Linked DNA regions of Homo sapiens: region 2 is linked to region 1. Evidence: fine-mapped expression QTL. A gene starts in region 1. The other region holds a variant in brackets. All regions are shown on one strand. Distances are from middle to middle. Region 1 holds the start of ERLIN1 (ER lipid raft associated 1). Region 2 overlaps COX15 (cytochrome c oxidase assembly factor COX15).

Region 1 (5,382 bases):
CATTTAAGTAAATACCACCATCTGCTTAAGCAATAAGGAAATCTATCTCCACCCACAAGTGTGGTAACTCCTGTCATGCCTGTCTATCTGGTATGGAGGCTTCCCCTAGGAATCACTCACCTGCACAGATCTGAACGTAGTAATGAAAGGCAACATGATATGATAGCCTGGTCCACTGGGGCTAGTTAGTAAAGCTCCTCCCCTGCAAAAAGATGTTTCAATTTGACAAAATTATAAAAAGAAAAATTATCTTTCCAAATCTAAAATGCTATAATAAATACTCACTCTTGCTCATGCTGCTGACCTACTAAAGCCTCACTAATATGAATTGCTCATAATGAACAACTGCTTAAAATACCTCCACACCTAAAAAGGGAAAAAGATCAAATTAAACTGCCAATGTTACACCTTGTTTCATAAGCTCAACCAACCGTACCTCTGGGTCTCCAGCACTGCTCTAAGGTTCAAAGGATTCTCCTCGGTCTTTAACCTTCTGAGAAATATTTGTTTAAAAAATTCTAATGGCTTTCAGTAGAGGTACATTAATAGTACATAACAAGAGCCAAATCAAAATATATAATACATTTAATCACCAGGTTGAAAAAAAGACAATGCAAACTTTGAAGTAAAGAGAAAATTTCTGAGGCTTATAATTCTTTCGATCTATCTACAAGGTAATTAAAATACTGGGAACATAAAATTTCTATATAAAAACAAAAAATTAGCATGAAAAGATGAAGGGTGACAAGACTATACAAATAAATAGCATAAGGGCTTGTTAACCAAATCCTGGAATGTGAAAACTATGAAAGCAAGCCCTGGAAATTATAAAAAGGAGGCATTTGGGGAGCAAAGAAAACAAAGTCCTATTTTGCACCTTGTAAATTCATAGAACTTAGCTACCGGTCTTGAAAATATAAACACATTTGCAAGGTCATAATAACAAGGAAAGATGAACTGTTTGAGGTTCATTACTAATTCTTTGAGTCATTCCTTGAAATGTCCTTTCTCTGGTTTTACTGTCAGAAAGACAATGCTTTTAAACTGGAAGGAAATCTGGACTAATCTGTAATTTCTTATGTAGAGCTCCATCTGCTAAGATATACCATTAAAATTGCTCTTTTTCTAGGATTCAGGATGGATTTGAAAGTAGAAATATCAGTTTTGAGGGATAGTGGAAACAAGCAAAAAGTTGACGCTCTTTTTGAATACACCATTATCCCAATTTCTCCACAAACTGGCCTCTCTTACTAGTCTGTATCAAAAGGAACTTGTGGTAATTAGGCTGAAGGAAAAGCTAAGCGAGCTCAACAAGAGAGCAACAGCTCCCACACCACTCCTGTCCCCAACTTGAACAGCAACAGTAAGGAGGGAGGAGCATGGCCCATCAGTGTTGTGCTTATGTCCCTGGAGGTCCAGGGACATAAGCACCATCACAGTCATCATGGTGTTACAAGACGTAACCAGACACTGGAAGCTTTTAAATGAAAAAGTCTAAGAAACAACCATAAACATACAGCATCTACAGCGGCAAACTAAAGCCTGTACAGTTGAACGAACTATAATTTATCCATCTCTTCAGTTAGAGGTAGAGTGACTACTTCCTTTCTTCCTTCTTCATTTTTCTACAAATAATTGAGTTTGCTGTGTATAGGAATAACCGTAGGGAGACTTAATCTCTGCAACAAAACGAACATAGCACTAAAACTGTCCAACATCTGGAGGGTGCTCCGCAAAAGCCCGCTTCGACCCCCGTGCTCTCCCTAGAGATGGGACATGCGCCCCCGAACGTTGCAGAGGGAACAACTTCCCAGACTCCACTCTGGAGTACCCTTTTAATCTGCTCTAGAGCCCTAACTGACTGCACATGCCGCTCACCTGTAGTACACAGCCAGATGGCCCTCCTCAATCTTGTGGATGGAGGCGTAGAGCAGGACAGCCACCAACCCCACCACTGCAGCCACCAGAACCCGGGCTTGAGTCATATTCATTCTCGTTCCTCCTGGGAGCGGGAGAAAAGGACCCTCAGTCCCGTGAGTGACAGGTCCACCCCCTCCAGTTTCTACCCTCTCCCTCCGGAAACTTGGCGCTCTCTCGCAGGCTGAGCCGGGGAGTCCAGTACCCCTGTCCCCTCATTCTTCCCTTCTGGCTGAGCCCGCTGACCCCTTGCCAACTCCTCCGCCCCCGGAGGCCAGTGGGCCGCCCCTGCTCGGTGAGCTTCCTGAAACTCCCTCTCCCAAGGGTCGCTCCCGGGTGGAAGGCACTAACTGAGAAGAAGCCCAGCCGCAGGCTCGCGAGGAAAGCCGACCCCTCGGCCGCGCCTCACCGATCAGTGACGCATCGCCCCCGCCCGCACGTGCAGCCGACTCCCGCGCCGAGCCAACCGCCGCCAACAGCCGGCCCCGCCCACTCGCCCAGCACTGCGGCTGCGCGGGGACGCACACGGCGTAGCCCCGGCCCGCGGCTAGTGAGACGGGGAGCGCATGGGACAAAATTCTCCTAGCCGCGGGCCGCGCAGGCTCCTTTGGAGGCAAGTCGCTTTCTGTACACTGCTGGTTAACTGCTTCGGAAGAGGACAGCCCGCAGTCTGGAGTGAGCAGCGAAGCAGAGAAAAGGAGACGCCCTTTCGGACAAGGGACTGGTTGGTTTGTTCTTGTGCAGAGAACCCACTCGCTCACTCTCAAACGGTAGCTGTTCGGTTTATTTGTCCTTTTGCAGTGTATGCGGAGCCCCACTGTGTGGCACGCACTTGCTTCCGGCAGAGATCCTGCCCTTCAGGAGCAACTAAACTTGTTGCAAATAAAGTGCTGTGAAAGTTCAGAAGAGGAAGATATTAGATATAACGGCATCATTCTCTCGTTTTTTAAGTGTTCCTATTATGTGCCAGAATGCTGGTCCAGTGAGGGCTTTATGAAGGCCATCCAGACTACAGGAACAGAATTGCTAAGCACATGGGGCGGGAGGCGGAGGGAATCCTCCAGGGAGACCAAAGTAAGTACTTCAGTTTCCTTGAAGGCTTGTGTGATGGGAAGGAGTGCTATGGTAGGCGTCACTACATATTCTGTTCGTTTTAAATTAAAAAACCATGGGCACATATTGCCAAAAATAAAAAAGGGAAGGAAAAAGGTATAGTTGGGAGATAGATGAATACAAGAGAAATTAAGGACATTAATGGTTTAAGCCTTGAAAGGCTAGAGGTGGAACTATAACTGGACAAGGTGGACTAGGGTTGTAAAGTCCTCTAACCCAGCGGACGGGGTGGGGGTGTGTGTGGGTTGGGGATGAAACTGTTCCACTTCAGATCATCAGGCATTAGATTCTCACAGGGAGCCGGCAAACCTCACATGTGCAGTTCACAATAGGGTTCGCGTGCCTATGAGAATCTGATGCCACTCGCTAATCTGACAGCAGGCAGAGCTCAAGGCGATAATGCTCACTCGCCCGCCGCTCACCTCCTGCTATCCGGCTTGGTTCCTAACAGGCCACTGTCTGGTTCCGGTCCGCGGCCCAGGGCTTGGGGACCCCTGCCCTCTTGGGTAGGGAAGTATGGGAAAGCAGTGCTTTAGGGCCAATGAATCTATAAAACGGCTGAAAGTGGAGACAGACTGTTGGCAAGGAAGTCAAGTGGTTAGGAAACTGCAGGCCCAGGGTTACTTAGTAGTGGAAGTAAGAAGAGGTAAATAGAATCAATCCGTCTTCATTAAAGCAAGACTTCCCAGACCACTCTACCCACACCCTTCAATAAATACACTTACCTGTATCATTCATTTGATTTTTATTATCTAGGAATGTCTGGGACCTTATCTGTTCCAAATAAATGATATTTGCAGAGCTTAGCTATTTTAACTTCCAAAAAGCAAAAAGAATGGAAAATAACTTGCTCCATACCCTGTTTTCTGTAGACATTCTCTGAAGTTTTTCATAATATTGCTTAAAGAATGAAATGTATACAATTCACAACTGCCATTCCCCTCTGAAAAGTTGTTACCCACCAAAAAATAGTGGTCCAACTCATGCATCAAAAGCAAGTTTGGGGATCCCACTATAATAGTCTGTTCTGACTCACACCATCTGCCCAAATTATATAGATCAGGCTGCCCTGACATAACCCCAGCCACACACCAGCAGCGGCCCCCACGCTATAACAAATCTTTAACCAATTATTAAAATATTAGAAAATGCATGACCATTGAAAATAATCCTTAACAATAATTGCAATGCTTGGATGGCTTGTAATGTTCAGACTCCCAGATAAGCACTTTTACTATACTGCCTATGTTGTTTCAGATCTTGCCATCTAGCTTAATACCCTCCAAGTAACAGGTACCCAATAAATGTTTATTACTAAAATCTTCTAAAACCAGGGAAACAAGAGAGAGACTGCCTATTATAATAGATGACGAACAGTGATATGTGATGACTAAAAAATTTGGTTGACTAGGAAAATGATACCACTAGCAAAAATGGGGATGGTGGGGCTGTGACATCAGTTTATAGGGCAAGAATCGAGCATGTTTTTTAGATGTAGATAGTGGTGATAGGACATCTCAGAGGAAAACACTCTTAAAGAAGTTGCCCAATACTACCTTTACCATAAGTCCTATTATTCCTAAGGAAAGTACAGTTATTCTATGCTCTTAATTCCACTTCATGGAACCTTCATATTTTCCTAAGCCATATTCAACTGTTTTATTATAATCTGATTTTTATAATGAATAGAGATCAAGAAAGTAATTTAAAAACCATTTAATACACAAAGTGAAAAACTATTAGAATATAAAAGCATTTCACATTTTTTAAGACAAATAATATCTTCTAAATTACTTAGCAGATGATAGAGGTCCACAGTCCTTTCTCTGAAACCCTTGGGGCAAGTTGTTTCAGAATTATGAAATTTTAGATTTTAGAAAAGTAGTTTTGTGCATATACCATACTACATTAACCAGCCCTCACCACAGTCTGTGGCAGCAGCCCTCCCTCTCATCATCAAGCAGCAAAATAAAGGAATATTCACACTAAATGGGATAAAAAGATTCAAGGTCAGTTCAGATTAGATTGCAAGCAAATGAATTTTGTCACCAAGCTTATGGAAACCTTGTTTTCAGAGCTTTTTGGATTTTGGAATTACAATTACAGATAAAGGAGTGCAGACCTTTATAAATTTGTATGACAAGACATGAAAGATTGTTTAAACAAATGACTCATTTTTACAAATGAAAAAACATGTAATTTTCAAATACATTATAAATTAACAGGCATCTTCTCTTTGATATTATTAAATGTACATCTTAAATACATATACACACAACAACATGATTTATGAAAGCCAACTAATATTAGAAGCACAGATACACAATCCCTTCGATGAGAAGGGGATACTGT
Region 2 (5,382 bases), 470 kb before region 1:
AATATCAATAGAGACCAAAATCACATTAATTCAGCAGTCAACAATTTGTTTATCTGGGTAGATGTCCATGCACTACACCATCAAGGCCATATTTTTCTTATTACAAAGCTGTTAGGAAACCCTCTCAGGAACCAATTTATACTGTCGATTCCATTCCTCTCTCTGACCTTGTAATGTTAACAGCCTTATCAAAAGAGGAACTAGCTGGGCGTGGTGGCCCATGCCTGTAATCTCAGCACTTTGGGAAGCCGAGATGGGCGGATTACCTGAGGTCAGGAGTTCAAGACCAGCCCGGCCAATGTGGTGAAACCCCTTCTCTACTAAAAATACAAAATTAGCCAGGCATGGTGACTTGTGCCTGTAGTCCCAGCTACTCGGGAGGCTGAGGCATGAGAATCGCTTGAACCTGGGAAGTGGAGGTTGCAGAGTGAGCTGAGATCACGCCATTGTACTCCAGCCTGGGCAACAAGAGTGAAACTCTGTCTCAAAAAAAAAAAAAAAAATGGAACTATTTGGCGATTACCTCCTTTTCCAAGTACTTAAAAACCATTTTGCTACATATACACATTAAGCTTGTCAAAATCTGCAATTTCCCCATTTCTGAAAATCAGGATATTAGAAGACATTAGCTTTTTTTTTTTTGCTGAAGACCAGCTGGCTACTTTGGGTATGTCAATCCTATCCTTTCAATCTTCACCTAATGGAAGTGAAGTTAAGATCATAAAGAAATTCTATTTAGGCAGAATTAAGGACTCAGGAGAACATCCACGTAGAAATCATCCACGTAGAACCAAGAGCTTGCCAACACTGAAAAACCTGACACAAAGCCTGTTAAGCAGCAAATGGCAGACATTTCTTTCTCTACATTAAAACTGATTTTCAACATGAAAAGCAGATTTAAAAGGGAACATTTAGGGTAACCACACTTAATGCATTCTTGATCCAGTGACTATCTCAAAACAGGAAAAGATTTTTAAGTAAGTTGACCATTTGGAAACCACTTGGTATGTCAAGGTCATCTCGTAGAAAAGCCCAAGTTCTTATGATCTCTGAAGAGCTCTCAAAAGCAGTCACAGTCCCAGGAGGCTGGTCCTCTAAGAATCATTTTGGGACTCTTCGGAGTTCATTCATCAGCCAAAGAGCACCAGTGAGCAAAGCCAAGGAGCCTGACTGGTGAGTGGCGGCCAGAGGAGTTGGGACATACATCAGCAGCGTGCTGATGCCCAAGCCCACCTGTCACAAAGGAAAGAAGGCAATAGGAAAGGCAGTAACCCAAAGTTCACATTGAAAATGGCCAGGCGTGGATAACCACACACAAACCTCCACATCCTCCTATCAGAGCACTTAAAATACACACATTTTTAATTTCACAAGCAAATATGCTTACAATGAAAGAAATTCGAACAAAATTGATAAACCTAAAATTCCCCTTATTCTTCAATCCATCCCAGTTCCCCAGAGTAGTCACTGTTACCAGTTTCTGCATACTTGTACTTTAGTATGTTTATAGAGAAATAAATATATAGTTTTGTGCTTTTAAAAAACATATTGTTCTGTCACTTGCTTTTTTTCACTTAGCAATATACACTATGTATTGAGATCTTATTAAACTGCTGTGCAGTATCGCACAGTATGGATATACCATAGTTTTTTTTGTTTTGTTTTGTTTTGAGACAGAGTTTCACTCTGTCTGCCAGGCTGGAGTGCAATGGCATGATCTTGGCTCACTGCAACCTCCACTTCCAGGGCTCAAGCAATTCTCCTGCCTCAGCCTCCCAAGTAGCTGGGATTACAGGCGTGTGCCACCCCGCCTGGCTAATTTTTGTATTTTTTAGTAGAGACAGAGTTTCATCATGTTGGCCAGGCTGGTCTTGAACTCCTGACCTCAGGTAATCCGCCCACCTCGGCCTCCCAAAGTGCTGGGATTACAGGCGTGAGCCACTGTGCCCGGCCCATAGTTTTTTAACTATTTAGGTTGTTTCCAATTTTTCACTATCACAATTCTATGATGAATTTTCTCATACAAAAGGTCTTTGTTGCATTGGACTGTTTCTAGGACTGACACTAATAAGTTCATTTGCTGGGCCAAAGAATTACCCATTTAACTTTTAAAAGATATTGCCAGCCTGGGTGACAGAGTGAGACTCCATCTCTAAAAAAAAAAAAAAAAGATATTGCCAAATTGCCTTCTGGAAAAAACTGTACTGACTCATGCTCTCACCAGGAATATTTGAAAGTATCCATTTTCCTATGCCCATGGCAATACCTGATTAT[CTTTT/C]TTTTCACTTTTTTCCAATTTGATAGGCACAAAATGGTACTTATTTTTTAAATTTGCTCCTCTCTGATTATAAGTGAAGCTGAACAGCTTTTCATGTTTACTGGCCATTAATCATTGTTTTTGTGGTAATTGTGTATTGATGTCCTTTACTTATTTTCCGGTTATTAATCTTTTAATTTATTATAAATATGGAAAATATTTTCTCCTAGTCTGTCACCTTTCCTTTTTTTTTTTTTTTTTTTTAAACAGACAGGGTCTCACTCTGTTGTCTAGGCTGGGGTGCAGCGGTGCGATCTTGACTCACTGCAGCCTCAACCTCCCTGGCTCAGGTGATCCTCCCATCTCAGCCTCCCAAGTAGTTTGGACTACAGGCACACACCAACATGCCCATCTAATTTTTGTATTTTTTTTGTAGAGATGGGGTTTTGCCATGTTGCCCAGGCTAGTCTTGAATTCCTGGCTCAAGTGATCTGCCCACCTAGGCCTCCCAAAGTGCTGGGATTACAGCCATGAGCCACTGTGCCCGGCCCCTTTTTTAACTTTGTATTGGGGATACTGTCAGAACAAAAAGAAGTGGTTTATACCTGTGTATACGCCAAAGCCAGCAGAGTCACTGCTGCCATCTTGGTCCTTCTAGGAAGGGGAATTCTCCGAGAGAGGAAGTAGAGCACTGTAATGGCAGTGACTGAAGTGATTCCCTGCAGGGAAGAAAGAGTCTATCACATTAGATAGAAGTGCCAGGTTTCTAACTCACCTTACATGTATCTCCTCTAGAACCACTCAGCAACCATGAAGTACTTTCCTGTACCAGTCACAGAGAACCTCCCTGCAGTCCCAGCCTGATCACTCCTCCACAGGCTGTCTCTTCCACCATCCTCTTCTGCTTGCCACTTAAACGTCGGTATCACCCAGGCTCCACCTAAGATTCTGTATGTACTTTATACACCCTCACTCCCAGTGATCTCATCCACCTTCCAATGTGGGTGTCCCCCTCATTTTTAATTCTTTGCATCCTTATCCCTAACCATATCTCTAATCCTATATTCTTAAAGCAGGGCTGACCCCAGCACATGAGGGTTATTATTTTCCTGGGCTGTGAGTGGAGAAAGTGCTGGTGCTGCCAGCTGGTGCTAAAAAAGACCTAAAGTCTCATTTTCATTCCTATCTCTTCAGAACAAGGGTCCAGGACTGGCAATAATGGTCTCCTTCCTCTTCCACGGTATCAGGGAGAATGTTTTCTATCATATTTCTACATTTATTTCACTTCATTTCCTTTTCAGTGCTGTCCACAATGACAATTTCAACCAGGCTTTACTTATGCTAAAATACTGTGCGCAGGTGGGGACTCAGCCCACACCAGGTAACATGCCTCAGCCCAGCCCCCGTTGGACAGCTGAGCCCTCTGGCCCCCTCTCTCTGGACGTGCTGCTCTCATCTCACACTCAACATACCTCCATCTGATGACATCCTCCCACCTCTAGCTCCACACTCATTCTGAGGGTCCCATCCCTGTAGGTCATGTTTCAAGCATGCTGTAGAAGAAACTTTGGGATTTCACTTGATCTTTCTTCACCTTTATTCCTGACAGCCAATCTTATTAACTCTTTTCCTTTATTTATTTATTTATCGTAGAGATGAGGTCTCCCTGTGTTGCCCAGGCTGGTCTTGAACTCTTGGGCTCAAGCGATCCTCTTGCCTTAGCCTCCCAAAGTGCTGGGATTACAGGCATGAGCCATTGCGCCCAGTGCTCTTATTTTTAAATTAAATTTAATTTTTTAAGAGACAGGCTCTCACTCTGTCTCCCAGGCTAGAATGCAGTAACGTGATCACAGCTTACTGCAGCCTCAAACTCCTGCTCAAACAATCCTCTCGCCTCAGCCTCCCAAAGTGCTAGGATTATAGGTGTGAGCCACCATGCCCAGCCTCTCTATTCCTTTAAATTCTCTCTCAAATGCATCATTCTTCTCAAGTCCCACTCCCACCATGTAGGCCCCATCTCCATCACTCTCCCTGGCATTACGCAGCAGCACTATGCTTCTCACAGTCTCCTTACTGCTCATCTTTCCCCGCTCCAATTCATCACACACAGGCCTCCAAGCCAATCTTTGAATGGCCCATAGCAGACCCTCAAAACATATTCGCTTAAATAGAATGAAAAGTACTGGTGAAGCTCCTGGCTCCTTGAGCTTCTGGTTTAGCTCCGAGAGCTACGTGCTTAGCAGCTATGGTCTCCGCATTCGCTTCTCTACTCAACCACATTTCTGCTGAAATGACTTTCTAGGTACGTGCAGAATTGAGGGAGGTTATCACTTGCCAAGTGGTAAAAGGCACATTTGAACTTTTAAGAAGCTGGCAACGTCCTGAAAGCTAGAATTTGGCTGGGGTTGGGGTAGGGGGACAGGGGTGAATAATGAGGACAAAGACATTAGATTAGAGAAATGGTCCTAAAATTTCTTCCAAAGAGAGCAGGAAATATAGTTCCTGCTCTACCCTCTCAGTGTTGCCATCAGTGCTTCACTGACACCCCAAAGCCTATGATAGGCTCCTGTGCTCTCTGGCAGGTAACCACCAACTACACTTACCAGAATCCGGTGATCAAACTGCACCATGGTGGGATTCTCAAAAACATTCCTCAGGATGGGGGAGAAGGTAAAGAGGTCCTCCGGGATCCAGGATTCTCCCATTTTGGGAAAGGAGTTATAAACAAGCCCAGCATCTAGCCCTGCCACAAAAGCCCCTGTATTCCAAGGTAAATGGTATTTATTAAAATGAGAGGAAGAAGAGACCAAATACTAGTTCTGATATAGAAAAAGTCTGTTATCCCAGAGTTAAACTAAGGGAACAGTCAGAGAATAATAGACATATCTGCAACAGGAGTTCTCCAACAGAGAAGATACATCACAATCACCAAGGAAACTTCAAATCTCTGCATCCTTACCTGCTCCCACCCCAAGATTCTGCTTCCTCTAGAGAAGTGGAGTAGAGGCTGTGGTGTGGGGGGAGGGGGAGAGGCTTATTAGCTTAGAAAAATTCCCTTAGTGATTTTGATGCCCTCCTCACCCCGCCACTGAGTGCTACTGATTTATTTTAGAAATGCTCTCCCA

What was found. PIP is the estimated chance that this variant, and not a neighbour inherited with it, causes the effect.
Region 2: its variant is the best candidate, but not a certain one, in a credible set for the expression of ERLIN1 in whole blood (TOPMed, PIP 0.50).

The regions. Positions count from the first base shown.
Region 1 is chr10:100,183,636-100,189,017 of GRCh38, forward strand. ERLIN1 (ER lipid raft associated 1) reads right to left here and starts at 2,394. Exons shown (of 11, transcript NM_006459.4): 1 at 1,879-2,394; 2 at 121-202. The coding sequence starts at 1,991. It overlaps CHUK (component of inhibitor of nuclear factor kappa B kinase complex), which reads right to left. Exons shown (of 21, transcript NM_001278.5): 21 at 4,665-5,382. RefSeq lists a silencer at 2,292-2,441 and an enhancer at 2,612-2,761.
Region 2 is chr10:99,713,486-99,718,867 of GRCh38, forward strand. COX15 (cytochrome c oxidase assembly factor COX15) reads right to left here. Exons shown (of 9, transcript NM_078470.6): 7 at 4,861-5,015; 8 at 2,863-2,976; 9 at 1-1,233. The coding sequence ends at 1,102. Among named protein-coding and RNA genes, the nearest start is that of COX15, 16 kb to the right of the region's middle. The variant CTTTT/C (reference allele first, on the strand shown) is at 2,275.